Regions from separate parts of the Homo sapiens genome. Here region 2 is linked to region 1. The links come from fine-mapping of genetic effects on gene expression. A gene starts in region 1. The other region holds a variant in brackets. All regions are shown on one strand. Distances are from middle to middle.

Region 1 (14,727 bases):
TAGTTTTCACGACAACCCTATAACAGCAGAGATACTAATATTACTCTCATTTACTGACAAGGAAACTGACTCTCAGTGAGGTTGAGTAAGTTGCTCAAAGCCACTTATCTAACAGATGGGGAAGCTGGGACATGGGTCCAGGTCCTTCCAACTCTAAAACCTATGCTCTATCCAAGTACCTGGGTTGGAAACCTCCAAGTTCTTGGAAGCTATTCTTCAGAGTGGAGTTACCAATCTCCCAGCTGGGTTCTGCCCTCAGCTTCCTCAGCACTAGCAGGAGATCGTACTAAGCAGTATCTTTAGTCAATCCCACGGTCCTCCTTCCTCCCCCATGGGCACAGCCTGTCACAGTGCATGCAATCTCCTATGGCACCTTGCCTGCTCCTCCCACATAACGGAGGCATCATGTCCCTGGCCAGAAATCTTTATTGGATTCCCCTTTCCTATCAAATTCAGTGCAAATGCTCATGTTGCCATTCAAGAGTTTTTGCGTCATGACCCTGTTGATCTCTTTGACTCTGTCTCCTGCTGCTCTGCTCCAGGTAAAAGGGACTCCCTCCTTACTGTCCTCTTATCTAAGCCATCAAATCCAGTGAGCTCCCTCCATAAAACCCTGAACTTCTTGCATTTTGTTTAAGAACCTCACCGACCACACTCCCTTTGTAATATTACTGTATCCATATTAACTCCCTCATGGGTTCTTGGCCCCTTAAGAGCAGAAACAGTATGCTCATTGTTAGCATACTAATTTCACTCATGAAATTTCTACCTCTTCTTTGGGCCAGGCACGGTGGCTCATGCCTGTAATTCCAGCTGAGTGGAAGTGGCTGAGATGGATTCCATGAGCCCAGGAGTTTGAGATCAGCCTGGGCAACATGGCGAGACCCTGTCTCTACAAAAAAATACAAAAGAAATTTCTACTCTTCTTTGCATCATAGCCTTTGCACATACTATTCTCTATCAGGAATCTTCTACCAAGCCCCTTCTTTTGCCTGGATTCACTTCTTTTATCTTCAGGTCTCAGTTTAAACATCAGTTCTTCTTGGAAGCACCCTCTGATCCTCCCAAACATGGAGAGTTGTCCCCAACCCACCCCATCTGCTCTCTGTACTTTGTGCCTATCCCTGCTACAGCACTGATCCCATCACACCATCCTGCATATTTCCTTGTCTCTCTCCTGCCCTAGATTCCAAGAGGACAGAGGACTGGCTCTATTGCACATACTGCTAACATCTTAAATATCTAGTAGAGTTTGTCCCCAATCAGTATTTTTTTTCATGACAAGATACATCTAAGTTTTATTCTAAGAGTTTTACAGGCACTTTTAGGTCTTACATTTAGGTCTTTGATCCATTGTGAGTTAATTTTTGTATATGGTGTGAAACCCTTAAGTCTTTAAATCATCTTGAAATGTTTTTTGTGTATCTACTCCTAGGTGATCATCTATCTGCAGGGGACACCCAAATCTTTGGGTGTAAGATAGAAATTCAATTTCATTTTTTCCTCATGGTTAACCCATCATTCCAGTACCATAAATGGGAGTTCCTCTTTTCCCACAAATCAGTCACAGAAAATCTGTTTCTGGGCTCTGGGTAGTCTATTTGTCTGTCACCATCCCAATTTCACATTATCCTAGTTACTTGAGCTTTATAGAAAGTCTGGATTTATATAGGACAAGTATGCTCTACCTCATTCATTTTTATGTTATTCTTGTCCTCCCAATCAGTATTTGTTGAACAAACAGATGAATGGATGGTATCTGAGCTCTCGAAAAATGTTTGCTAAATTGTATTATTTGTGAAAATCTAAGGTATATTTTCCTGGGAGTAGACTTGCTGGTTGTTGAGGACACATTGAGACTGGAATCTCTTTACAGATTCCCTGGAATGGGTTCTATGAACTCTCTGGAAAGAAGAAGAGCTGCATCTAAGGCAAAGCTAGGAAGATGGTGAGGTGGATCAAGAATCAAGAGTTGACTCAAGGCTGGGCATGGTGGCTCATGCCTGTAATCCCAGCATTTTGGGAGGCCGAGGCAGGAGGATTGGTTGAGCCCAGGAGTTCTAGACAAACATGGGCAACAAAGGGAGACCCCATCTCTACAAAAAATAAAAAAAAATTTAGCCAGGCATGGTGACACATGCCTATAGTCCCAGCTACTCGGGAGGCTGAGATGAGAGGAGGATCACTTGAGCCCAGGTGGTCAAGGCTGCAGTAAGCCATGATCGCACCACTCCCCTCCAGCCTGAGTAATAGAGTAAGACCCTGTCTCAAAAAAAAAAGGAGTGAAATCTGGAAGCCTGGCAACTCAGGGAGGTGAAGAGGTGAAGAATGAATTCTGGACTGGATTGCATTTCAGACTGGGTCTTGAGCCTTCCTCCTTTAAAGTGGACTGGTAATGCCCTTCCTAAGAAAAGAGTCCCACTTGGAGAGAATCTCTCCAGCTATGTCTCATGCTTCTCCTGCCCATCCTCCACTCCCATAGCCTAGCACAGTGCCTGGCCAAGAGGATGCCCAGTGGCATGTATCCATTAGACAGTATGGCTGGCATACCGACTTCCCGAAACCAAGGATCTCCTCCTCCATGTACTTCCAGGCCTTGGCTGTGGGGGTTATGATGCAGGTATTCTCCACGATCGAATAGCACAGCACCAGCAAGGCCTCTGTGTGGGGCAGCTGCAGGAGGCTGCAAGAAGACAGCACTGAGGGTGGGGCTGGGCCAGGTGGCCCGGGCAGGAAACTACATCCAGTCTCTTCCCCTTCCCTTAGTGTCTGCTTTGGTCACACACATTCAGCATGCTTAGCATGGGGCCTTAGAGGCCTCTGGACAAATCGCCTCATTTTTCAAATGAGGAACTGAGGACCCGAAAGGAGAAATTACTTTCTCAGGATTGCAATGCTAAACAGGGCAGAGACAAGACCAGAACCCAAGTCTGGTAGCTCCAGGTACAGGGCTTACATAGAGAATAAGCATTTGAGCAGTGCTTAAGCCAACAATGGGCACAGAATTGGTGAGGCAGTTGCTAGCTGTGCCTGAAGTCCAGACAGGTCTGAGTGGATCTGGAGGCTGAAGCTAGGAAAATGGGCTTCTCACTCCCAAGAAAGGCAGAAGGGAGGGCAGGGTGGATGACAGAGTCAAAACTTCCTATACCTGCCAGGGTTTTGGTTTCTCCAGTAGGAGTTCTCATCATATATTTCATTCATTTCATCTATTTCCTGGGCTGATCGAATGAGCTCCTGGATGTTCTCCATTATCATAGGAGTAGACTCTACTTCTCGTACCCGGGGAGCAAAAGAGGAAGGGTTAGAAGATAGAGATTCAGAGTGAAACTTGGGCTCTGAGTCTGTCTGCAGCTGAGACACAGCCTCCCGTCCCTCCTTAGTCCCCTGTCCTTCTTCCTGCTTTCCCTCCTCTTCCTGTTCCTCTTCTTGCTCTTCCTGTTTCTGCCCCTCTTCCTGCTTGTGTTCTTGTGTCGGCTCCTGCCTGTGCTCCACTCCTTGCTCCTGCTTGTGCTCTGGCGCTTGCTCCTGGCCTCCCAGGGACAAGGAGGATTGTAGGAGCTCTTCCACGTTGTTGCTGAGCCTCTCAGGCCAGGGCTGGAAGGTCTGGCGTTCTGTCACTACAGCAGGGTTTAGAGAGAAGGGAGAGAGACAGTCAGGCTTCTAGCCCCTGAGTGTCTTTGTTCACAGAGGGACACACACATAAACAAAGCAGACCAAGTCACACTTATACACACAGAAAAACACAGAAAAGAACATAAGTATTAAACTAAAAGAACATTACCACGGCAACTGTAAGGCTGGTGGTATGCATCACCTTCCCACCTCCCTGGCAAGCACTCCTCCTTCCCTAACTTCCACCTCAAATACCACCATTTGTCCCTCTCCCTTAGGAAACACCAAGTATGCTGAGTAGCTAGCAGTCAATCCTTTCTAAAGTGAAGACATTAGCTTATAAAGGGCCTAGAGGTCCTTTGTAATGCAACAATGTCTCTGGAATTGGGAAAAATGGATTCAGGGCAAAATTGTAAGTAATGGCAGAAGAGATTCTGGTCCAGGAGAGCCCTAACTTGTATTCATAAAAAGCTGACACTCCTTTGTGTAAACAGCTGTCTGCTGGCGCCCCCTTCCCGCCCAACATGCTTCCCATTTCCCTGCCATGGATGCCTTACGTTGTGGGCTCTGGGAGTTGTGGGAGTAGCTGGTGGTCTCCCGGCTGCTGAGAGGGTCTCACCTGTGAAGTGGGGTGAGATGGGGGAGGTCATCGTGGTGGGTGAGACTTCAGCTGAAGCTTCTATCTCCTTGAGAGTGTTAGGTGAGAGAATAGAGACTGGCTGGGAACACAGGACTCTCTGCAGGAAGAGAAGGAAAATGGGAAAGCCTTTCCTAAAGGGCAGACTTCTGCTCCAGCTGGTTCTTCAACCCCTTTTCCAGCATGTCTTATCTCTCAGTTTCTAGGCAGGGATAAAGGGACATGGTCCCTGCTGGAACCCTCTAGACCTGAGAAAGGGTCCCTTCAGAAGATGAATCTCTGTTTGTCTGGGCCACATCCCTGCCGTCACTTTTGCATTTGACTCAAAATCACTGACCTGTTCGAAGAAACGTAAGGGCTTATCTCTTTGCCTCTTCCCATCCCTCTTCCCTACTTCTTTTTGTTTGGGTTTTGGGTTTGTTTTTTTTGTTTTTTTTTTTTGAGACGGAGTCTCACTCTGTCACCCAGGCTGGAGTGCAGTGGCGCGATCTCGGCTCACTGCAAGCCCCACCTCCCGGGTTCACGCCATTCTCCTGCCTCAGTCTCTCGAGTAGCTGGGACTACAGGCGCCTGCCACCACGCCCAGCTAATTTTTTGTATTTTTAGTAGAGACAGAGTTTCACCGTGTTAGCCAGGATGGTCTCGATCTCCTGACCTCATGATCTGCCTGCCTCGGCCTCCCAAAGTGCTGGGATTACAGGCGTGAGCCACCGCACTCGTCCCTGTTGTTGTTTTTTTTTGAGACACAGTCTTGCTCTGCCACTCAGGATAGGGTGCAGTGGCATGATCTCGGCTTACTGCAACCTTTGCCTCCCGGGTTCAAGCAATTCTCCTGCCTCAGCCTCCCGAGTAGCTGGGATTACAGGCGCCCATCACCAAGCCCGGCTATTTTTTTTTTTTTTTTTTGTATTTTTAGTAGAAACGGGGTTTCACCATGTTGGCCAGGCTGGTCTCGAACTCCTGACTTCAGGTGATCTGCCCATCTCGGGCTCCCAAAGTGCTGAGATTACAGGCATGAGCCACCATGCCCAGTCTCTTCTCTACTTTTCTTGCAGTAACAGAATTGTTCAATCTGAATATCCAAGGTGAGACTGTATTCATATATAATCTGGGTAAATGACTGGCAAAATGGCAGGGAAGGAGGAGCTAAGGATGACTCTCCTGGAACCCTTCCTCAACTCCCCACTGCTGCCGCCTCTCCCTTGGCCCTGGGGCACCAAATCCAACCTTTGTCCTGGGCCTCACCTTGGCATAGTAGACGTGGTTGGAGCAACGGTAGTGAGTGAACTGGCAGAAAGACTCAAACCAGGAGGCATAAGGGAGGTTGGAGCAGACAGCACCTGAGAAAGGGCAGGGGTGGAGAAGATGAACCCGTGGGGAGCTTGGGGTGGGGCTGTGGGCAATGGACTCCACGCCATGGGGAGGGTGGAGAGTACGAGCTCATGGTGTGGTGCCAGCCATGCCCTTCCCCGCCTCACATGAGCACAGGGGTTTTTGCCCTGAGGTTTGGGTGAACACTCTGGGTGCCTCGGTTTCCCCCCTAGTCTGGCCCTCACCATCGGGCACTAAGCCGTGGTTTTCATATTGGTCCAGCTGGACGAGTGTGGGATTCCGGCAGCCGTGGGTTGCACGGAGACGGCAGGTAGTCTCTGCCTTCCAGGTTGGAGTCAGCAGTGCGAAGAAGCGTTCGTATTCGGTAGGAGAGAGAGGGCTGCCTGGAGTGGAGGCCTGAGTCGAATCCTGGGCTGCGGCAGGTGCCAGAGGCAGGAGCAGCACTGCGGAGCGGGCGAACGGATGATGGAAGGACCGAACCCCAAAACCCGCTCCGAGACCAGGACAGACAGACCCAGACTGGCAAATTAGGAACGGGGTGAGGGTTATCCCTGCTGACCAGGGCGGGGGGAGTCTAGAGACAGAGGCAAAGGTCCGGCCGCGGGCGGGGGGAGATGGGAGTATCCCAGGACCTAGGGAGCCGACCCAGCGCGACCACCATGAGGAAGCGATCCAGAAACCGTAAAAGCAGAGCTCTCGGGAGGGAGAGGACTAGCCCGGGGAGAGTCTGTTGGAGCAGGTGTAAACCTCTCACCCTTCAGGAGTGAGGGAAGGAAGCCAGCGGCTGGCTTCCTCATGGCCGGAGAAGATCCGCCCGCGTCCCGTGGACACAAGCCGCCTCTAACGGGCCAAGCCGCAGAGAGAGCCGCAGGCGCGGGGCGGGGCGCACGCGGGCACCGCCCACGCGTCACAAAGAGCGGGCCGGGGCGGGGCCTCGACAGCCGGGCTCTCAGGGCCCTAAAGTGGCCAGAGCCCATCCAGATGGTAGGAATGGCAAACAGCTACCTTCACTTAGCGTCTTTTTCTTTTTTTTTTGAGACGGAGTCCTACTCTGTCGCCCAGGCTGGAGTGCAGTGGTGCGATCTCGGCTCACTACAACCTCGGCGTCCCAGGTTCAAGTGATTCTCCTGCCTCAGCCTCCCGAGTAGCTGGGACTATAGGTGCACGCCACCACGCCCAGCTAATTTTTGTATTTTTAGTAGAGATGGTATTTCACCATGCTGGCCAGATGGTCTCGATCTCTTGACCTTGTGATCCGCCCACCTCGGCCTCCCAAAGTGCTGGGATTACAGGCGTGAGCCACCATGCCCGGCCTAATTTTTGTATTTTTAGTAGAGACTGGGTTTCACCATGTTGGCCAGGCTGGTCTTGAACTCCTGACTTCAAATGATCTGCCCACCTCGGCCTCCCAAAGTGCTGGGATTACAGGTGTGAGCCACCGTAGCCAGCCACTTAGCATCTTTACATGCACTACCTTACGTAATTGCCATAGGAATCCCATAAGGTAGATACACTATCATTCGTTTTACAGATGAGAAATCGGGGCTTAGGGAAGCAACTCGCCCAACAAACAGGTCGTGAGGTCTAGAGCTAAGCGCAGGCAGAGATAGAATGTGCAAAACCAAGTCAAGGCCTATCTGGGTAGGAACTAGACAGGGCGCCTCCATGAGCAAAATGGGTCCAAGGGGAAAACAAGAGGGTGGCTCAGTGGTCTACGAAAGTGGTTTCCAAGGGAGAATCGAGTAAGACAGTCCACTGAGGTATGGGAGGAGAACTTTTGCTTTTGTATCTGTTTTGTGTTTAAAATGAGAAATTCCAGCCTGGGCAACAGGGCGAAACCTCGTCTCTACAAAAAGTACAAAAAATTAGCCAAGCGTGGTGGCACGTGCCTGTAGTCCCAGTTTCTTGGGGGGCTGAGATGGGAGGATCGCTTGAGCCCATGAGGCCAAGGCTGCAGTGAGGTGCAATCGGGCCACTGCTCTCCAGCCTGGGTGACAAAGTGAGACCCTGTCCCCACCCAAAAGCAAAAGTAAAAAAGAAAAATAAAACAAGAAATTGTCTTGGGCCAGACTTGGTGGCTCACGCCTGTAATCCCAGCATTTGGGAAGTCAAGGCGGGTGGATTCCTTGAGCCCAGGAGTTCCAGACCAGCCTGGGCAACATGGCGAAACCCTGTCTCTACAAAAAATACAAAAATTGTCAGGTGTGGTGGTGTGCGCCTGTTGTCCCACTTACTACTTGGGGAGGCTGAGGTAGGAGGATCACCTGAGTCTTCAGAGGTCAAGGCTGCAGTGAGCTGAGATCTCACCACTGTGCTCCAGCCTGGGTGACAAAGTGAGACCCTGTCTCAAAAATAAAATAAAATAAAATAAATTAATAAAATAGAGACCAGGCACTGTGGCTCATTCCTGGAATTCCAGCACTTTGGGAGGCCAAGGAGGGTGGATCTCTTGAGGCCAGGAGTTTGAGACCAGCCTGGCCAAAATGGTGAAACTTGGCCGGTGCGATGGCTCATGCCTGTAATCCTAGCACTTTGGGAGACCAAGGCAGGCAGATCACGAGGTCAGGAGATCAAGACCATCCTAGCTAACACGGTGAAACCCTGTCTCTACTAAAAATACAAAAAATTAGCCAGGCGTGGTGGCATGTGCCTGTAGTCCCAGCTACTCGGGAGGCTGAGGCAGGAGAATTGCTTGAACTCGGGAGATGGAGGTTGCAGTGAGCCGAAATCACGCCACTGCACTCCAGCCTGCATGACAGAGTGAGACTCCATCTCAAAAAAAAAAAAAGGGTGAAACCCAGTCTCTACTAAAAATACAAAAATTATGGCTGGTCTCAGCACAGTGCAATCTCTGCCTCCTGGGTTCAAGTGATTCTCCTGCCTCAACCTCCCAAGTAGCTAGGATTATAGGCACATGCCACCACATCTGGCTAATTTTTGTATTTTTAGTAGAGATGGGGTTTTAACATGTTGGCCAGACTGGCCTCGAACTCCGGACCTCAGGTGATCCACCCACCTCAACCTCCCAGAGTGCTGGGATTACAGGTGTGAGCCACCGCACCCAGCCTATTTATTTTTTTGAGACGGAGTCTCACTCTATCGCCCAGGCTGGAGTGCAGTGGTACAATCTCAGCTCACTGCAACCTCTGCCTCCCAGGTTCAAGCGATTCTCCTGCCTCACCCTCTCGAGTAGCTGGGATTACAGGCACCCATGACCACGCCCAGCTAATTTTTGTATTTTTGGCCGAGACCGGGTTTCGCCATGTTGGCCAGGCTAGTCTTGAACTCCTGACCTCAGGTGATCCACCTCCCTTGGCCTCCCAAAGTGTTGGGATTACAGGCGTGAGCTACCGGGCCTGGCCTACTTTAAAAAAAATTTTAAAAAATGAAAAAAAGAAATCAGCTTGGGTGCTGTGGCTCACGCCTGTAATCCCAGCACTTTGGGAGGCCAAGGCAGGCAGATCATGAGGTCAAGAGATGGAGACCATCCTGGCCAACACGGTGAAACCCTGTCTCTACTAAAAATACAAAATTAGCTGGGCGTGGTAGCATGTGCCTGTAGTCCCAGCTACTTGTAAGACTGAGGCAGGAGAATCACTTGAACCCGGAGGCGGAGACTGCAGTGAGCCAAGATCACGCCACTGCACTCCAGCCTGGCAACAGAGTGAGACTTCGCCTCAAAGGAAAAAAAAAAAGAAGTCAAGCTAATGTATAGTATAGCAGTACGTATGTATAGCACAAATACATCATTTATTGGAAATTAAGTGAAAGATGTTTTATGGAGAAAAGATGCATGATTTACAAAGTTTTGGAGACCCCCTGGTCTGAGGCCTACCCTCCAGCACCTCTGTCTTTCCCAAGTTGAGAACTTACAAGTTCTCGGACAGAGGCACCACTCTGGTTTCATGTCGTGTCCTAATTCTGGCATGCCATCCTCTCACATTGCATCCAACCCAGAGGACGCAAAATGAATGCTCAGCATGTTTACTAAAACAGTGTCTCTACAATAAACACAGCAGGCCAACATGTATAGCTTTTATTTACCTACCCAAGTTCCTTTTACATGTGAGTTATCTGCATTCCACCTTGCCCCCTCTCCCAGGATGAATCCTCTTGGCACAGAGGAAGGGGTGCCCCTTCAACTAGGGCCAGAGCCTAGATGACCTGGTGGATCCCCCACCATGAAAAAAGCAGGAAGGGAATGGAGAAGAAAAGTGTTGATCACACCTAGCCCTCACCACAGGAGGGGGAATGAAGAGGTCTGGGGGACTGCCCCCATGCTATGCCCCAGTCCTTAAATACAAAGCAAGGAGAATGAAAAGGACCCTCCCTCTGAAATACAGCACCGACCTCAGCATGGAGGCAAAAGGACAGTGGGCAAGACCACGTCCCTCCGAAGGGAGAGGGCTGAAGGAGAGCACATACCGTTAGTGGCTGCGGCACCCCTCCCTACCAGGGTCTGATGCAGCCTCAGCACCGGGAGTGGGGAGAGGGGAGGAGAAGGGATGACAGCACTGTGCCATCCACTCCTCCCTGAACCCCTGGCCCCAGCACAGGCATTCCTCTGCCCACTAGCCCAAGTCAGGGGATGTGGAAGAAACTGTGTTGGAATCCAAGGCCCTTATCTATTTCTTCTTCCGTTCTTGGGAGCAGCGTGGGCAAAACCTGAAACAGAGAAGGGGAGAGAAAAGTGAGTGAAAGGGAGAATGCCCTTGACCACTCAACTTAGGGACCCTCCAACTCCTGCCACTTACCATTTCCCCCGAGGCTTGGTTGTCAGCCCCACACAGGCAAAATGGAACCACTCAATGGAACACTGGAAGAGGAAGAAAGAAGTAGTCAGGGGCCAGGAAGGGCCAGAGGAAGGAGAGAAAGCCCCTCCAGATTCCTTAGGAACATCCTGTCCTTTACTCCATCCTTTTGGAGAATTCTTGGAAGTCCCAAGGCCAACCAGTTCCCACCATCTTCCTTCTATTCTTTTTTTCTTTTTGAGGCAGAGTCTCACTCTGTTGCCCAGGCTGGAATGCAATGACATGATCTCAGCTCACTGCAACCCCCGCCTCCCGAGTTCAAGCTATTCTCCTGCCTCAGCCTCCCAAGCAGCTGAGATTACAGGCACAGGCTATCATGCCTGGCTAATTTTTGTATTTTTAGTGGAGACGGGGTTTCACCGTGTTGGCCAGGCCAGTCTCGAACTCCTGATCTCAAGTGATCTGCTCACCTTGGCCTCCCAAAGTGCTGGGATTACAGGCGTGAGCCACAGCGCCAGGCTTTCAGGCTTTTTTTTTTTTTTTTTTTTTGAGACAGAGTCTTGCTCTTGTCGCCCAGGTTAGAGTGTGGTGGCGTGATCTCAGCTCACTGCAACCTCTGCCTCCTAGGTTCAAGCAATTCTCCTGCCTCTCGCCTCAGCCTCCCGAGTAGCTGGGATGACAGTCGTGTGCCACTATGCTCAGCTAATTTTTGTATTTTTAGTAGAGAAGGGGTTACACTATGTTGGCCAGGCTGGTCTCAAACTCCTGACCTCACGTGATCTGCCCGCCTCAGCCTCCCAAAGTGCTGGGATTTCAGGCAAGAGCTACTACGTCCAGCCCATCTTTCTTCTATTCTGAAGTCCCAGTACTCAACTGTGGGATTTTCCCTCTTGTACCCACTCCCTTCATGCCCCTCACAACCCCCCATCCTAAGGCAAAATGTTTCTCACATCAGGGTTGTCACAGCCAATCATCTCTCCATAGGAGACCTGGTGACAAAGGCAATAGGTGGGTTCGTTGGGATCCACAGGCATATCCAACACATCAGAGGGGTGGACACTGCCAAAGGTCACTGAGGGCATCCCATACTCAGGACTTCTGCATGCCAAGAGGAAGAGAAAGTGTCATCTACAGGAAGGGAAGCTAAAGCCTGAGGCTTTCAGAGGTGGCAGGAGATCCTGGTAGGGCAAATGATTTGTGGCTTCTCCAGCAGATACCAAAATGATAAGAAGAGTTCTTGGCGCAGACATATAGAAAGCGGCAGGGGGCGGTGCAGGCTGGGAGTGGGGCACCGGGAGAGAAGAGGATGTCATCCGGCAAAGGGCTCCCTGAATCACTCACGTGCGCACGAGCTTTAACTTCTTCTGGGCAGTCTTGGGGGCTTCTTCATCCGAGTTTTTCCCTTTGGAACGAGCACGAGCAGCTTTCTTCTCCTTTTGAGTCCGGCCTTCTAGGGAAGAGGGAGAAAGCCAGAAGGCAGGGAGACAGAAAGATGGGTTAAGTCCTCTTCTCTCCCCCTTTCCAACCTGGTGCCAAACTTCCCACCAGATGAAGAGCTGACTTCTTCTCCCTTTCAGTCCTCGCCCCACCTCTCACAGCCCCGCCCCCTCCTCACTCTTTTTGCCTTTGCTGGAAGAGCTGTCATAGTCACTTGACTCAATCTGTTTCTCCTTGAGATCAGCCTCAAAACGGGCCAGGTCTGTGTCCAGCCGCCGAATGTGTTTGTCCACCTGGGTGGAAAGGAAGGAGAAAGGAGAGGTACAAAACTATCTCCAATTAAAGAAAATAGGTTAAGGCAGAGTTTATGGATCTCACAGACCCCAAACAGATCCCAACACAGTTGAAGGAGGGGTCTAAGACCCTGAGGATTAGATGGGAAGTAGGTGGGGAGCCATGAACAGGGCCATACCATCTCATAGGTCTGCATGGCAAGCTGCACCTTGTCGTCACCAAATTCCTTGCACTTGCCATAGGCTTCCTGGATCTGTTTGAGAAGGGCCAATTTTTCCTCGGAGCTCAGGCTGCGGGCACTACTCATATACTCAGTGGCCAACTTGTCAATTTCAGCCTTCAGGTCTACAACAGAGACAGAGGCCTGGTCACAATGGCCCCTGAGTGGCTAGGTGAAACACATTTCTTCCTTTTGTTCTTTGGACCTTTTCCATTGATTAGCATAACCTTCCAACTAAAAAGTACTGAATGTTCAGAGGTACTGTGCCATGCACTCAAGTAATGGAACATACTGACAATATTTGCTTTAAAGGTCCTTTCAAGGTGCTGAAAACATTGCTATCATAGTTGGAATTTAAATTACTGAAACACAGCAAGGGATCCTTTGCACACCACATTAATATGAAGTGTATTTTTGTCCATGTTTGAAGATGCTTCTTTGAAGGGCTTGCTGCTTCTTGAATTTTGTCTCAAAAGCCATTGTTTCCTTCTCAAAAACATCCCACAGCAGTTGTCTGCCGCAAATCAGGCTGAGTCATCTGCTGTTGCTGGTTTCCAAGTCTGTACATCAATATCATACATTTCAAAATTATTAGTATTTTTTCTTTTTGACACAGGGTCTCACTTTGTCGCCCAGGCTGGAGTGCAGTGGCACAATCATGGCTCACTGCAGCCTCAACTTCCTGAGCTCTGGTGATCCTCCCATCTCAGGCACCACCACGCCTGGCTAATTTTTTCTATTTTTTTGTAGAGACAGGCTTTTTCCACGTTACCCAGGCTGGTCTCGAACTCCTGGGTCAAGCAATCTGCCTGCTTCAGCCTCCCAAAGTGCTGGGATTATTGGGGGTGAGCTACCATGCCTGGCCTAATCTATTTATTTTTAGAGGCAGGCGCAGGTTCTCTCTTATGTTTGTTGCCTAGGCTGACCTCCAACTCCTGTCCTCAAGTGATTCTATCTTTTCGCCTCCTGAGTAGTTGAGTATATCACACAATTTAAAATTAGACCTTACTCCAACATCCATGTAACAATTCTGCTTATCTTACTGCTCACTCTATTTTTCTTTTTTTTTTTTTTTGAGACAGGGTCTCACTCTATTGCCCAGGTTGGATGGAGTGCAGTGGCATGATCATGGATCACACTGCAGCCTCAACCTCTGAGCTCAAATGATCTCCCATTTCAGCCTCTGGAGTAGCTGGGACCACAGGCACATGCCACTACACCCTGATAATTTTTTTAAAAAAATTATTTCTAGAGATGAGGTCTCACTATATTGCCCAGGCTGGTCTTGAACTCCTGGTCAAATGATCCACCTGCCTCAGCCTCCCAAAGTGTTGGGATTCCAGGTGTGAGCCACTGCAGCCAGGCTGCCCATCCTATTTGGCTCATCATTGCAACTTCTTTCATTTTCCATTACTTCTTTTTTTCCTGTTTGTCCATCCTAGATATTGCTCCAAACACGTTTTTTTGTTTTGAGACGGAGTCACGCTCTGTTGCCCAGGCTGGTGTGCAGTGGCACGATCTTGGCTCACCTCAACCTCTGCCTCGTGGGTTCAAGGGATTCTCGTGCCTCAGTCTCCCAAGTAGCTGGGACTACAGGTGTGCGCCACCACATCTGGCTAATTTTTGCATTTTTAGTAGAGATGTGGTTTCACCATGTTGGCCAGGCTGGTCTCGAAGTTCTGATCTCAAGTGATCTGCCCGCCTCGGCCTCCCAAAGTACTGGGATTACAGACATGAGCCACGGCACCCGGTCTCCCAGATGTTTTATTTTATTTTATTTATTTTTTTTTGAGACCAAGTCTCACTGTGTTGCCCAGGCTGGAGTGCAGTAGTGTGATTTCAGCTCACTGCAACCTCCACCTCCCAGGTTCAAGCGATTCTCCTGCATCAGCCTCCTGAGTAGCTGGGATTACTGGCATGCGCCACCACACCCGACTAATTTTTGTATTTTTAGCAGAGACAGGGTTTCACCATATGGGCCAGGCTGATCTCAAACTCCTTATCTCAGGAGACTCACCCGCCTCTGCCTCCCAAAGTGCTGGGATTACAGGCGTAAGCCACCGCACCCGGCCCCAAATGTTTTAATATTGGAAGAATGGTAATGTCCCAGGACATTGAGACTATAGATGTTTACTAATATTTGGAAGGGCTCATAAATATGTCAGTAGTAAGAGACAAGTCTGACTCTAACATAGTGCAGCAACAGATAACCAGGAGGATCTGTGAAGACACTGTTTATACTCCACTTCATTCCAGGCTCTTGGAAGAAGCTGAAAAAGCATATAGTTCCATAATCTCCAACTGTCTTTCCATGCATGAACTCAAGAGTTACAACTGTATTACAAAAAAAGCAATCTGGTTCTCACCATTCGGCAGGCAGTTCTCAGGGAACTGTGTCCAGGGTTTTTGATGATGTTCACCTTTTCATGTGTAAACTCAGAGTA
Region 2 (14,727 bases), 28 kb before region 1:
CACCCGGCCAGAACATCTCAGTTCTCATTTGCAGTGCAGCTCTGCAGGCCCCGGACTCACAGGGCAACCCTGTAGCGCACAAGCTGTTTAAAGGACCCAGGTGTCCAGGGTTCAGATTTGGCTCGCTGGAGCCTGCCCCAGGGGCCCCTTCAAACAGCTGTCACCAAAGAAACCTCTCCAGCCAGTTACTCCTGCCAGGCCTCAGGTCCGACTCCAGGGCTCACCCTACCCTCCCCAGCTCCTTCCCTCCCTCTTCCTTCCCTCCCCCTCCCCACCCCTCCCTAGAGTTTCACCTCTCCTGGACAGCCCCACCCAGCTGTGCAGGGCACATCCCATAATAATCCTCCTCGCTAGCCTTACCCCCCCAAAAAAAGAGAGGCGGCCATCCCATAATAGCCACCCACAAGAGACATTCCGCGGTGACCGCCCCCTCCCTGCAGAGCTGCTGGGAGCAGCCATCCCATAATAGCTGGCCGCCTGTTTTACTGGTTACGGCTGTGGAGGGAGCTGGAGAGGAAATGGAGGGGAGGGGGGAGGGGAGAAAGATCCAGGGCCCCCACTTTGTGGGATGCAGGGAGAAGGGGAAGGACGGTGGTATAAGGGGCTAGGGTGCAGAGGAGGCCGTCGTGCAGGTGGAAGGTGTGATCCACTGGCCACCACCACCCTGCTTTAGGGCTTTCTCCCCATTCGCCAGGGGCTACTTTTCTCCTCAGCACCCCGGAGGTGGCTGCTAGTTAGGGGAGAAGCCCGGGATGGGTTGAGGTGCCCAAAGTCTGTGTGTGTAGGGAGATGGGTTTCAGGTGTTCCTCTTGGGGAGTCTGAGAGAGGACGGTGACCTTAGAAAGGATGGTAGGCGAGTAAGGGTTGAGGAGGTGGGGGGGCTGGAGAAGAGCTCCTCAGGCCCTCCCCATTCTGCACCACCATCCCATAATAATCCCCCCAGCCCCACTCCCCCTCCCACACACGACATCCCATAATATCTTCTGGAGAAGCAGTCCCCGCAGTAGGTACAAAGAGCTATCCCATAATAAGCTCCCCCACCCCCACTCACCACCCCCCCCAACTTGGCCCCCCCTCAGTCACATGCAGCCGGTGCCATCCCCCGCTGCTCCCCCCTCTGGCCACCGAAGGCCTTGCCAGCCCATAATACTCTTGCCTCTGGTCGCAGGAGGCCTCCAGCCCATAATACTCCCTTCCACCACCACCCCCCCTTCCCGCCCCGCACCCCTTCCTCCCGCCTCCAGTTGGAGCCGGGCCTCACCAACCCATAATATTCCCCAGTCTCCTAAGGCTGTTCCAGCCCATAATACTCTCCCTGTCTCCTAAGGCCTCTCCATCCCATAATACTGCCAGACGCCTGACCTGTGGGCCAAACCCCAGCCAGTTCCACACATCGAGGCTGTGTCAGCGCCGCAGGCCTCCCTCCCTGTCCCTCCTCCCTCCCTGGTCGGCGCTTTCCCTCCCAGGCTTTCTCCCGCCCTCCTGCCCTGGGCCCCTCTCCCAGCCCCACCCCGTGCCTGCCTGGGCCCTCGCTTCCCCTCCAGCCTCCTCCCTTGCCCTTTCTCCATTGCTTGGTTCTCCAGCCAGCTTCCCCCTGTCTTGCACTTTCCTACCTCCTCCTTGGTCTGTGGGATGGACATGGGCCTAGTGGGGAGAGAGTGCCCCCAGAGGGCAACAGGCCAGTCGCTGCCCCTAAAGACTGCCTGCTTGACCTAGCACCGTGGAAACCTGCCCAGCCTGCCTTGCTCACCACCTCCCGTGGTCCTACGTCTGATTGCTGGCAGAGCTCTGTCTGGGTGAGGAAAGAGCCCTTCAGGTCTTCGGGAAACACTCCCCTTGGGCATCACTGGCAGAGTTGATCAATGGCCTCGCCTCCCCATGCTCTTGTTGGAAAGAAGGAGCTCCCACTTATGGGGCATCTAGAGTACCTTTCAAAGGTGGGCTCCTTGACCCTCACAATAACCCAATAAGTGGATATTATGAGCCCCATTTCACAGAGAAATGGGAGAAAACAGAGGCTCAGAGAGGTCAAGAAATTTGTTGAAGCCACATTGCCAAGAAGTGAGAGAGTTGAAATTAATGCCCAGATTTGTTTGATTCCAAAGTTCTGGAGCCTTTGGGATTCCCCAAACCCTGAGTGAGAAAGTTCACCTTCCAGGACTTTCCGTGCTCCTCTGGCAAGGACAACATGGTGAGAATTACCCCAACTTGTCCAGGGCCTTCCTGTGTGAGATTAACCTTCCGTTCCCCGTTTCTTCCATGGGACTCCAGGTGGCAGCCTCGAGGGAATTCCATCTTCAGGATGGTTGAGGACCAAGAAGGAAGAATCTCTGCCCTCCTTTGATATCCCTTACCTCTGCCCTGGCTCTCCTAAATTTGTTTTAAGATTAATGATTGTGGCCGGGTGTGGTAGCTCACACCTGTAATCCCAGCACTCTGGGAGGCAGAGTCAGGCACATCACATGAGGCCAGGAGTTCAAAACCAGCATGGCCAACATGGTAAAACCCCGTCTCTACTAAAAATACGAAAATTAGCTGGGCGTGGTGACGCACGCCTGTAATTCCAGCTACTAAGGAGGCTGAGGCAGGAGAATCACTTGAATCTGGGAGGGGGAGGTTGCAGTGAGCCGAGATGGCACCACTGCACTCCAGCATGGATGACAGAGCAAGACCTTGTCTCAAAAAAAAAAAAAAAAAAAAAAATTAAGGCCAGGAGCGGTGGCTCATGCCTGTAATCCCAGCATTTTGGGAGGCCGAGGTGGGCGGATCATGAGGTCAGGAGACGGAGACCATCCTGGCTAACCTGGTGAAACCCTGTCTGTACTAAAAATAAAAACAATCAGCTGGGTGTGGTGGCACGTGCCTGTAGTCCCAGCTACTCGGGAGGCTGAGGCAGGAGAATCACTTGAACTTGGGAGGCAGAAGTTGCAGTGAGCCGAGATCGTGCCACTGCACTCCAGCCTGGGTGACAGAGCAAGACTCGATCTCAAAAAAAAAAAAATAATAATAATGATTGTTACTCTTCCCAGCTCCTCTCACCATGTGGAGGGACCATCCTACCGAGGAGACAGACTTTGAGGAAGGGTGAACCAAGGGATGGTCCCTGCTCAGTGTACACAATCAGGAGTGCTGCCTTGGAGATGTAGGGTACATCACAGGCTGGGGGAGGGGAGTCATGGCCAACTGCCTGAAGTCTTAAGGCATTCTGCCTGTGTGTGGGCCCTCGATGTGGTGTATTTTAGGGCCCAACACAATTAGAACCTTGAGTGAGCCAGCTCTCAACCTCCCCAACCCCTACAGCCACATGGTGTTCAATAAACAGGGGGCTGAGACAAACGGAGAGGGAAGGGGCGGGTGTGCTGTAGGGCAAGTGGATTAGGGGCATGGAGGAAGAACTGGGAAGAGGAGGACCAAGATGATGCAGCAGATTCAAGGCAAGCCAGGCAGTTGAAAGAGGTGGCTACATGAGGAGGGGAGGAGAAGGAAGGAAACCCGGGGTGGTATGTAACAGGAAAGAAAGTCCCAGGAAGGAGAGGTATACTGCAAAAAGCAGGAGTTTGGGAGCCAAATTACAGACTGAGCCACTTTCTAGTTGTGTGACCTTAAGACCTCAGATTCTCCAGGGTGTTTCATCTGTAAAAGGGATGAACATCATCTCCAACTCAGATTATATTATTTAATATAATAAAGAAGATAATGCATCTTAAGCGCTAACTTGAAATCTTGGCATACAGAAGAGTATTTTTTAAACCTGCTAAAAGGCCGGGTGCAGTGGCTCACGCCTGTAATCCCAGCACTTTGGGAGGCCGAGGTGGGTGGATCACCTGAGATCAGGAGTTCAAGACCAGCCTGGTCAACATGGTGAAACCCTGTCTCTACTAAAAATACAAAAATTAGCCGGGCATGGTGGCGGGCGCCTGTAATCCCAGCTACTCAGGAGGCTGAGGCAGGAGAATAGCTGGAACCTGGGAGGCGGAGGTTGCAGTGAGCAGAGACCACCAACTGCACTCCAGTCTGGGCAACAAGAGTGAAACTCCATTTCAAAAACAACAACAACAACAAAAACTGCTAATGCTCATTCCCGTCTGTCTAAGATTTTCCCCTTCTCTATCTTTGGATTTTCATAGACCTTAAATAGAGCAGCTTCAGGGCATGGGGTGAGGGCTCTGGACTTCATATTGCTCTCTTAGTCTTGGGGAACCCTATGAAAATGGCCTAATCTATTCTTGCCTCTCTGTTCTCTTGATGGAAAGCCTTTGGATATCTGAATGGGGGGAAATAGTCCACCAGGGCTTTGACACCAGAGATTTCACATCAGAGACAATGTATTGCCATCTAGCTCTTCCACAGGCCATGGCCACACTTGTCCTGGGCTATTGTAATGGCCCCCTGACCAGTCTTTCGTTTCTTTAGACTTTCCCCCCCCATCATTTTCCTACAGTTTATTCCACACAGTTTGTCAGTGTGAGCAAAACCTCACTCAGGAGCCTCCGTGGGCTTCCCATTGCCCACTAAACCAACTGCCAGCACCTTACCCTGCATTCTTGTGTTTTCTGCCTGGCATTATAGTTTTTGTTTACTTGTTCTATGGTTCTCACTAGATTGTAAACTACTTCACAGCAAGATCTGACTGTTCATTCATTCAACAAATATTTACTGAGCACTTTCTCTGTGCCAGGCACTGTTTTAGATGCTGGGGATCATCAGAGAATCAAGCAAAAATCCATGCCCCCACAGAACTTACATTCTACCTAGGATATAGGACGGGGTGGCGGAGATGATAAACTATAAAAATTAGAATAAATAAATTATATAGTATGTTGAAAAGTGATACATGCCGTGAGTTGTAATTACTTTGGAACTCACGTACCTGCCTATAAAAGTACTCAAGTAATCTTTAAAAATTGTGTTTGATTCTGTTTGAATAGGGCAAAGTGCTAAGATTTTGGACTACGAGGTTTGGCGCTGCCAGTGCTCTCAGGACAGGAAGGGCACAGGTCTTGAACCCTGAAGATGAAGAGAGATGGAGCAGGTGCTAATCACCAGGCCTCTTCCAGAGCGGCTGGAGGTAAGTGCCGGGCTCCAGGCTCCAATCTCCACCCAGATGGAGAAAGGCCCAGATTTCATGGCTATCCCTGAGGAATCTGGGTCAGTTCTCTGATTTGGCCACCAGGGGTCATTTTACCCCTGTAAATCACCATCTGGAGCACTTGGCATAAAGGCACACACAAAAGGCTACCCTGGACTAAAACAGACACAAACGGAGAACCCTGACACACACACACACACACACACACACACC[T/C]CTCTCTCTCTCTCTCTCACACACACACACACACACATTCTCTCACACACACAGAGTGCGTGCACACACAGATAAAAATACAGTATTGAGACATAGGGACAGAAATGCTATAGGACGCACACAGGGCAACAGCTCCTTCAGTAATGCCAGGGTCTGAAGATGTCCACAAGTGCCAACTCTGCAGCCCCTCCGAGCCCCCAACTTGGGTGAAGAGGGAAGGAATAGCCGGGCACAATGGCTCATGCCTGTAATCCCAGCACTTTGGGACGCAGGCAGATTCACCTGAGGTCAGGAGTTCGAGACCAGTCTGGCCAACATAGTGAAACCCTATCACTACTAAAAATACAAAAAATTAGCCGGGTGTGGTGGTGTGCACCTGTAATCCCAGCTACTTGGGAGGCTGAGGCAGGAGAATCCTATGAACCCGGGAGGCAGAGGTTGCAGTGTGCTGAGATCGCGCCATTGCACTCCAGCCCAGGTGACAGTGCGAGACCCTGTCTCAACAAAAAAAAAAAAAGAGGGAAGGACTAGTAGGTGGCCCATTTCCCTTGCTTCCAGCGTGCTGAGAATGGACAGCCTATTCCTGTCCTCCCATCTCACTCTTAACTTCCCCATAAACTTTTCTCTCCTGGCTGTGGCACAGTTCCCTTTTCCCTCCCCCAGAGAAGCCCCATCCCCTCTGCCTGAGTGTATGACTAGTTCCACCCCCCAGTCTCCATCCCTGCCCCAGGGCTGCTGCTCTGATATGCCCAGGGTAGTGTTCCATTTTATGTACTACTCCTAGGGCCGCAGGAAAACCCTGAGCCATGAAGACTATCAGTAGTGATTAATTTATTTAGCACTGCCCTCTCCCCACAGTAATAAAAAGCACTGTACATAATGCCCTGGGAAGAAGTTAGACATGAACTCCAATACTTCAGGACAAGTATGGTTCTCAAAGTGTGATCCAGGGACCAACCCTCTGAGGAAGTCCACGAGGTCAAGCTATTTTCATAATACTGCTACACAGATGTTATTTGTCCCTTTCACTCTCATTCTCTCACAAGTATACTGTAGAGTTTTCCAGAGGCTTCATGAAGTGTGTGTGGTGACATTATTGCTCCCATGGCTAATGTAATGTGTGCATGTGTATTTATTTTAAAAATGTATTCGCTTTAATTTCTAGTATGGTAAGTATCAAAAGAACAAAATATAAGCAAAGCTCTTTGAGATCCTCAATTTCTAAGAGTGGGGTCTGAGACCAAAAAGTTTGAGAACCAGTGCTTTAGTAGAAAGAATTTTATCCTTACTCTGGACAAAGGAGAGAGAGGGAGAGAGAGAGAAGAGGAGAAGAGAGAGGAGAGGAGAGGAGAGAGAAGAGAGAAACGAGAGAGAGAGAAAAAGAAAGAATATTAAGGACCTAAAATGGAGGAGGCCTGGAAAAGGGGATGTGATGGAAGAAAGGATAACCTAAAAAGGGTTTGGACTTGGATGTTGTTGAGGGGGAAACTCTAAGTTAGTTTTGCCTTGCCCCAACTATCCCATGCTGGATGCCAAGTCTAAATTGTCACAAGTCACTATGCGAGAAAGAATGTAGTTCTGTCCATAGGAACTCTTGTATTAGGCCTCAGTGGTGAGCAGGGGAAGCCTAGGCCGAAATGAAAGGGGGTGGCATCCATGAGCCTAGACAGAAGTCAGCAGATGAACAGGCATCTCAGTAGCTTTGTCCACCAAACCTGGTGCTCTTCAGCTCTCAGGCCCCTGTGGCGGTTTAGATCCAGAATGCCCATTTTCTGTTCCATCTAACCAGCTTTTAGCAGTTTAATGCCCTGCCCACCCAAAGGCATTTCGTCCTCTTCTGCCCTCTGCACGGGTGGGCTCTCTGCATCACTTCCCACCGCTGGAGAAGGGGTGCTCTGCGTGCTCACAGTTTAAAGAAGCCATTTCCAGCAGCACTGCCTTCCCTGGGCCCTGGCTTCCACACTTTGTACTCTTCTGCGTTGCTAAGCTGGAATTGCCACCCAAAGGTCCAAGTGCCCAGCCCACCTTCTTGTGTGTACACCCTGTAAGCCTCCCAGAACGAGAGGCGTTGGGAGTCGGGCACGGACAGCGCAATGGCATGTGTGTTCAGAGGGCGGAATCCTGGGGACACTGTGTGAAGGAAGACAGAGAGTGGGAGTCGGAGGGTCGGAGCAGCCCCTGACTGGCGGCATCCGGCCTGGTGGCGTCGGTGGTGACGGCGGACCTTTCGGATTGCGCGAGCGCCGCCCGCGTCCCGTTGGTGGCCGAGGTCCTGGCCCGGTGCGGAGTGCCCAGGCCGCGCAGGGTGTTGCGGAAGCCCTCGGCGCTAAAGTAGTACACCAGCGGGTCCAGCACGCAGTTGGCGCCGGCCAGCAGCACCATCACCATCAGCACCCCGCGCACGCGATCGCGGGCAGGCACGCTGGCCGCCACCAGCTTGCTCCGCAGCAGCCCGTAGACCGCCAGCGTGCTGTTGTAGGGCACGAAGCACAGCAGGAAGATGACGAGGTTAGCCAGCAGGAGGCGCACGGTCTTCCGCCGCCGCTGGCTCTGCGTGGCGTCGGGGCGCGCCAGCGTCCAGAAGACTCGGCCCGACGAGTAGACCACCGCCGCCAGGGGCAGCAGGAAGCCCAGCGCCTCGGCCAGCAGCACGAGGGGCAGCAGCCTGCCTTTCCACAGCTCGTCGCTGAAGCTCTCGAAGCATAGGCGCACCTCGAGGTCCCGGTAGCGGCAACGCGAGGGCCTGTGCACGCGGGCGGCGGGCACGGCAAACACCAGGATGAGCGCCCACACGCCCAGGCAGAGCAGCCGCGCCACGCGGGGCCGCCGCAGGTGGCGCAGTCGCAGCGGGTGCACGATGGCGGCGTAGCGGTCCACGTTGATGAGCATCAGGAAGATGCAGCTGCCGTACATGTTCATCTGGAAGATGGCGCCCGTCGTCTGGCACAGGAGGTCGGGGAAGGGCCAGTGGTGCAGTGCGTAGTAGGAGAGACGAACGGGCAGCGAGAGGGTGAAGAGCAGGTCGCTGGCCGCCAGGTTACACATGTACACGCTCACCACCGAGTGCACGCGCAGCGCGCGCAGGAAGACCCAGAGGGCTAGCGCGTTGAGGGGGAGCCCGGCAGCCAGCACCAAGCTGTAGACCACCAAGTGCAGGCGGTGGGTAGGTCGGTAGTCAGGACACGGGAGAACAGAACTGTTGGTTGAGGAGCTGTTGGCTAACATCGTGCCAAAGTGGGATTGGGAGCTAGGCTGGGGATGCCATGGAGCACACCAGAATCATGGCATGGCATTCACCTCCGGGGCTGGGGCCTAGAGGCTGTACAGACATGGTCCCAAAACAAGCAGAGGGAGGTCATGGGAATGTGGGCTATGGCTGCAGGGACAGATGGCTGCCAAGGGTTGGGTGCGTTTGGTCACAGCTTCATCAGCAGCAGAGACCTGGAATAGGAAGGCAAGCCGGAAGTTATACAGAGACAGGGCTGCACACACAAATGTTTAGCTCCACTGGCAGGCCTTCTGAATCTTTTCTCAGCCTCAAGTCTGCCATTGGGCTAGAATAGGTTCCTACGGCAGGACTATATAGTATAGTGTTAAACACCCAGGTTTGAAGGCAGGGACTCGGATGCCTAGGTTTAAATCTTGGTTTTGCTAACTTGCCTAGTTGTGTGACTTCAAAAAAATTAATCTTGGCTGGGTGCAATGGCTTACACCTGTAATCCTGGCACTTTGGGAGGCCAAGGCAGACCAATTGCTTGAACCTAGGAGTTGGGGACCAGCCTGGGCAACACGGCGAAACCCCATCTCTACAAAAAAATACAGGGCCAGGTGCAGTGGCTCACACCTGTAATCCCAGCATTTTGGGAGGCCGAGGCGGGTGGATTACCTGAGGTCAGGAGTTCGAGACCAACCTGTCCAATATGGTGAAACCCCATCTCTACTAAAAATACAAAAATTAGCTGGGCGTGGTGGTGCACACCTGTAATCCCAGCTACTCGGGAGGCTGAGACAGGAGAATCGCTTGAAACCAGGAGGCAGAGGTTGCAGTGAGCTGAGACTGTGCCATTGCACTCCAGCCTGGACAACAAAAGTGAAACTCTGTCTCAAAAAATAAAAATAGCCAGGCGCGGTGGCTCACGCCTGTAATCCCAGCACTTTGGGAGGCCGAGGCAGGTGGATCACCTGAGGTCAGGAGTTCGAGACCAGCTTGGCCAACATGGTGAAACCCCATCTCTACTAAAAAAAATACCAAAAATTAGCCTGGCATAGGGGCGGGCGCCTGTAATCCCAGCTACTCAGGGGGCTGAGACAGGAGAATTGCTTGAACCTGGGGGGTGGAGTTTGCAGTGAGCCAAGATCGCGCCATTGCACTCCAGCCTGGGCAACAAGAGTGAAACTCCATCTCAAAATAAATAAATAAAATAAAATAAAAAATAAAAATAAGGCTGGGCGTGGTGGCTCACATCTGTAATCCGAGCACTTTGGGAGGCTGAGGTGGGCGGATCACCTGAGGTCAGGAGGTTGAGACCATCCTGGCCAACATGGCAAAATCCTGTCTCTACTAAAAAAAAAAAAAAATTAGCCGGGCGTGGTGGCAGGCGCCTGTAATCCCAGCTACTCAGGAGGCTGAGGCAGGGAGAATTGCTTGAGCAGAGGTTGCAGTGAGCCGAGATCACACCATTGCACTCCGGCCTGGGTGACAGAGCAAGACTCTGTCTCAAAAAAAAATAAAATAAAAAATATTAAAAAATTAAAAAATTAGCCAGGCATTGTGGCACATGCCCGTAGTCCCAGCTACTTGTGAGGCTGAGGTGAGAGAATCACTTGACTCCAGGGAGGTGGAGGCTGCAGTGCAGTGAGCCTCAAGCCCACCACTGCACTCCTGCCTGGGTGACAGAGTGAGCCCATCTCAAAAAAGAAAGAAAGAGGGCCAGGGCCGGCGTAGTGGCCCACACCTGTAATCCAGCACTTTGGGAGACTGAGGCGGGCAGATCACCTGAGGTCAGGAGTTCGAGATCAGCCTGGCCAACCTGGCAAAACCCTGTCTCTACTAAAAATACAAAAATTAGCCAGATGTGGTGGCATGCACCTGTAGTCCCAGCTACTCAGGAGGCTCACACAGGAGAATCACTTGAACCCAGGAGGCGGAGGTTGCAGTGAGCTGACATCGTACCACTGCCCTCCAGCCTGGGTAACAAAACGAGACTCCATCTCAAAAAAAAAAAAAGGCGGCTGCATGGTACCTCATGCCTGTGATCTCAGCACTTTGGGAGGCTGATGTGGGTGGATTACTTGAGGCCAGGAGTTGAAGACCAACCTGGCCAACATGACAAAATCTTGCCTCTACTAAAAATACAAAGATTAGCCGGGTATGGTGGCGTGCACTTGTAATCCCAGCTCCTCAGTAGGCTAAGGCATGAGAATTGATTGAATCCAGGAGGCAGAGGTTGCAATGAGTCGAGATCACGCCACTGCACTCCAGCCTGGGTGACAGAGCGAGACTCTGTCTCAAAAAATGAGAGAGAGAGAGAGAGAATTCATGAGGTTTGGAGATTAAGATGACGTGTGTAAAACGCTTAGGTTGCTGTTACTATCTCAAGATCTCTTCCTTCCTTCTTTCCTTGCTTACTGAGCTCATAGAAAGTTCCAGGCATGTTCACAGCAGGGAACAAAGCAAAAAGTCTTTGCCCCCACCTCCTTTACATTCCATTGGAGGGAGACAGATAATAAGCACAAATCAATAGGTGGTCTTATGGAGCACCTCCTTGGACCAGGTGCTAGGCTAGCTCCTCATTATCCAAAGAATAAAGGTCAAACTCTTTGAGTACATGGGAGGCTGCAGCAGGAGAGTCCTTGAACCCGGGAGGCGGAGGTTGCAGTGAGCCGAGATCACGCCACTGCACTCCAGCCTGGGTGACAGAGTGAGACTCCATGTCAGACAAGCAAACAAGCAAACAAAACTCCCAAATACAGAACAACATCCCAGCCTTACGCATCACATGCATCACTGCGCCTGTGAGGGCTGGATTTGTGGTCAAAGCAAACTGGGTTCAGCTTAATGGTTTGACTTCTCAGTTTCTTCATCTGTAAAATGGGAATAATAATATAATAATGCCCTCATAGGCTGATTGCATGCTAGTCTTGACCAGAGCCACATGTGAATAAATTTGACAGCACAGTCTTGCTAGGCAGGGGAAGGCCCTGTGGGTTGAGTTTTGCCAAGTGCTCCCCTAGCAGGTCTAATCCATCGCACTCCGGCCTGGGAGACAGAGTGAGAGTCCGTCTCAAAAACAACAACAACAACAACAAAGACCAAGACAGTGTTGCTTAACCGTCACCACTCTCTGTTTCCAGAAATAGAACTTTTTCATCAACCAAGCAACAACTCTGCAGTCATTAAGCAGTACTACCCACCGCACCCCATTCAGCTTCTGGTTCTAGTCTACTTTCTGTCTCAATGAATTTGCCTATTCTAGATACCTCATATGAGTGGAATCATACAATATTTGTCCTTTTGTGTCTGGTTTATTTCACTTAGCATAATGTTTCCAAGATCTATTCATGTTGTAGTATGTAAAGGAATTTCTTTTTTTTTCTTTTCCGTTTTTTTCTTTGAGACCTAGTTTCGCTCTTGTTGCGCAGGCTGGAGTGCAATGGCACGATCTCGGCTCACCGCAACCTCTGCTTCCAGGGTTCAAGCGATTCTCCTGCCTCAGCCTCCCAAGTAGCTGGGATTACAGGCATGCGCCACCACGCCTGGCTAATTTTGTATTTTTAGTAGAGACGAGGTTTCTCCCTGTTGGTCAGGCTGGTCTCGATCTCCTGACCTCAGGTGATCCACCCGGCTCGGCCTCCCAAAGTGCTGGGATTACAGATGTGAGCCACCGCACCTGGCCTGGAATTTCATTTTTATAGCTGAATAATGTATTTCATTGTATAATGTTTTGCTCATCCATTCATCTGTCAGTGAATACTTGGATTCTTTCCACCTTTTGGCTATTGTGAATAATGCCACTGTGAACATGGGTGTCTAGATGTCATCTTAGGGAGAGAAGTTGTCTGAGACCCTGAGCAATTATCCCAAGACACCGAGCTTATTACTTTCAAAAGGAACTGTTTAGGCCGGGCGTGGTGGTTCACGCTGGTAATCCCAGCACTTTGGGAGGCCGAGGCAGGCGGATCACGAGGTCAGGAGATTGAGACCATCCTGGCTAACACGGTGAAATCTCGTCTCTTTTAAAAATGCAAAAAATTAGCCGGGCGTGGTGGCAGGCGCCTGTAGTCCCAGCTACTCAGGAGGCTGAGGCAGGAGAATGGCATGAACCCGGGAGGCGGAGCTTGCAGTGAGCCGAGATTGAGCCACTGCACGCCAGCCTGGGCAACAGAGACTCCGTCTCAAAAAAAAAAAAAAAAGAGGGCCGGGCGCGGTGGCTCATGCCTGTAATCCCAGCACTTTAGGAGGCCAAGGCGGGCGGATCACAAGGTGAGGAGATCGAGACCATCCTGGCTAACATGGTGAAACCTCGTCTCTACTGAAAATACAAAAAAATTTAGCTGAGCGTGGTGGTGGGCGCCTGTAGTCCCAGTTACTCAGGAGGCTGAGACAGGAGACTGGCGGGAACCCGGGAGGCAGAATTTGCACTGAGCCGAGTTCACGCCACTGCATTCCAGCCTGGGCGACAGTGAGACTCCGTCTCAAAAAAAAAAAAAGGAACTGTTTAAATTGTTGCAAGAAAATAAGTCATAAATCTGGCTATAACAAGTTTTTTGTTTGTTTTTTGTTTTTTGTTTTTTTTGAGACAGGGTCTCACTCCGTGGTCCAGGCTGGAAAGCAGTGGCTCGATCTTGGCCCACTGCAGTCCTGAACTCCCAGATTCAAGTGATCCTCTTACCTCAGTCTCTGAGTAGTTGGACCTACAGGCGTGTGCCACCATCCCTGGCTAATTTTTAAATTTTTTGTAGATGGCCAGGGGCAGTGGCTCATGCCTGTAATCCTAGCACTTTGGGAGGCTGAGGTGGGTGGATCACTTGAGGTCAGGAGCTCGAAACCAGCCTAGCCAACATGGTGAAACCTCGTCTCTACTAAAAATACAAAAAAATAGCCAGGCATAGTGGCAGGTGCCTGTAATCCCAGCTACCCGGGAGACTGAGTCAGGAGAATCGCTTGAACCCAGGAGGCAGACAGAGGTTGCAGTGAGCTAAGATCGCGCCACTGCACTCCAGCCTGGGCAACAGAGCAAGACTCCATCTCAAAAAAAGAAAAAATTTTTTCATAGAAACGGGGTCTGACTGTGTTGCCCAGGCTGGTCTTAAACTCAGGCTCAAGCAATCCTTTTGCCCTGGGCTCTGTAAGTCCTAGGATTACAGGCATGAGCCACTGTACCTGGCCACAAGTTTTTCTTGTATTTGGTTTTGTTCTCCTTCCAACCACCACCATCAGCAGTTTGAGACTTGTAAGAGATATAGTAAAACAGTTAAAGGGAATAAAGAAATACTTCCTCTGCAAAATACCAGTCTCAACAATGAAAATAATACCAAATGAGACTTAAACATGCTGAAAAGCAAGTAAAACCAGGCTCATTTCTGATACACTCCCCTGCTCCATGCTCCTTTGCTCCATTCACACCAAACTAATACTAATTGTGGACATACCTTATGTTTTCAGGACTCTGCCTTTGTATGTGGTGTTTCTTCAACTTGGAATGCCCTGCCTCCCGTTCTCCAACTGGCAAGCCTAGTATTTTCTCAGGACTCTGCAAAGCCTTCCCTAACCGCCCCCGCAACACAAGGCGGATGTGGTACCCTCACTTGTGCCTCCGCAACAGTGCGCAGGTTTATCAGAGCTCTCCCCATGCATGGTAGTCAGCTGTTCCTGGTCTGCCCCTCCCATTAGACTGTGAACTCTTAGAGGGAGGGGCTGTGGACCATGGCTTATTCATCTTTGTGTATTCTCAGCACCTACCTCTGTAAATGTTAAAAATAATAGGTATCATTTACTGATCATCACCATATTTTAATTTCTATACATAATATCTAACATAGATACATTATTTCACTTCCTCATTGTCCAACTGAAATGTATAAAGTGGGTTATTTGAAGTGGGTTATTAAAAATAACCACTTCCAAAAGTGGTGACATAAACTCATCTTTCACACATACACATAAATATGCCTCCTTGAATCACTTGAACCCAAGAGGCGGAGGTTGCAGTGAACGAAGATCATGCCACTGCACTACAGTTTGGGCAACAGAGTGAGACTCCGTCTAAATAAAAATAAGTAAATAGACCGGGAATGGTGGCTCACGCCTGTAATCCCAGCACTTTGGGAGGCCGAGGCAGGCGTATCACGAGGCCAGGAGTTCGAGACCAGCCTGGCCAACATGGTGAAACCTCGTCTCTACTAAAAATACAAACAATTAGCCG

Evidence for each region.
Region 2: its variant is fine-mapped to the expression of ACRBP in whole blood (INTERVAL, PIP 0.92).

Annotation. Positions count from the first base shown.
Region 1 is chr12:6,640,989-6,655,715 of GRCh38, forward strand. ACRBP (acrosin binding protein) reads right to left here and starts at 6,444. Exons shown (of 10, transcript NM_032489.3): 1 at 6,336-6,444; 2 at 5,806-6,024; 3 at 5,495-5,589; 4 at 4,232-4,349; 5 at 3,149-3,617; 6 at 2,551-2,683. The coding sequence starts at 6,378. It overlaps ING4 (inhibitor of growth family member 4), which reads right to left. Exons shown (of 8, transcript NM_016162.4): 3 at 12,242-12,408; 4 at 11,948-12,062; 5 at 11,674-11,779; 6 at 11,283-11,430; 7 at 10,336-10,397; 8 at 9,313-10,246. The coding sequence ends at 10,207. RefSeq lists enhancers at 5,865-6,378, 6,302-6,371 and a silencer at 14,402-14,602.
Region 2 is chr12:6,612,722-6,627,448 of GRCh38, forward strand. LPAR5 (lysophosphatidic acid receptor 5) reads right to left here. Exons shown (of 2, transcript NM_020400.6): 2 at 6,114-8,743. The coding sequence starts at 8,527. The coding sequence ends at 7,409. LOC105369631 (a long non-coding RNA gene) reads left to right here and starts at 1,365. Exons shown (of 4, transcript XR_007063192.1): 1 at 1,365-1,796; 2 at 2,106-2,191; 3 at 4,929-5,068; 4 at 13,968-14,045. RefSeq lists a cis regulatory region at 60-1,802, a silencer at 1,043-1,112 and enhancers at 7,140-7,661, 7,662-8,182. The variant T/C (reference allele first, on the strand shown) is at 5,303.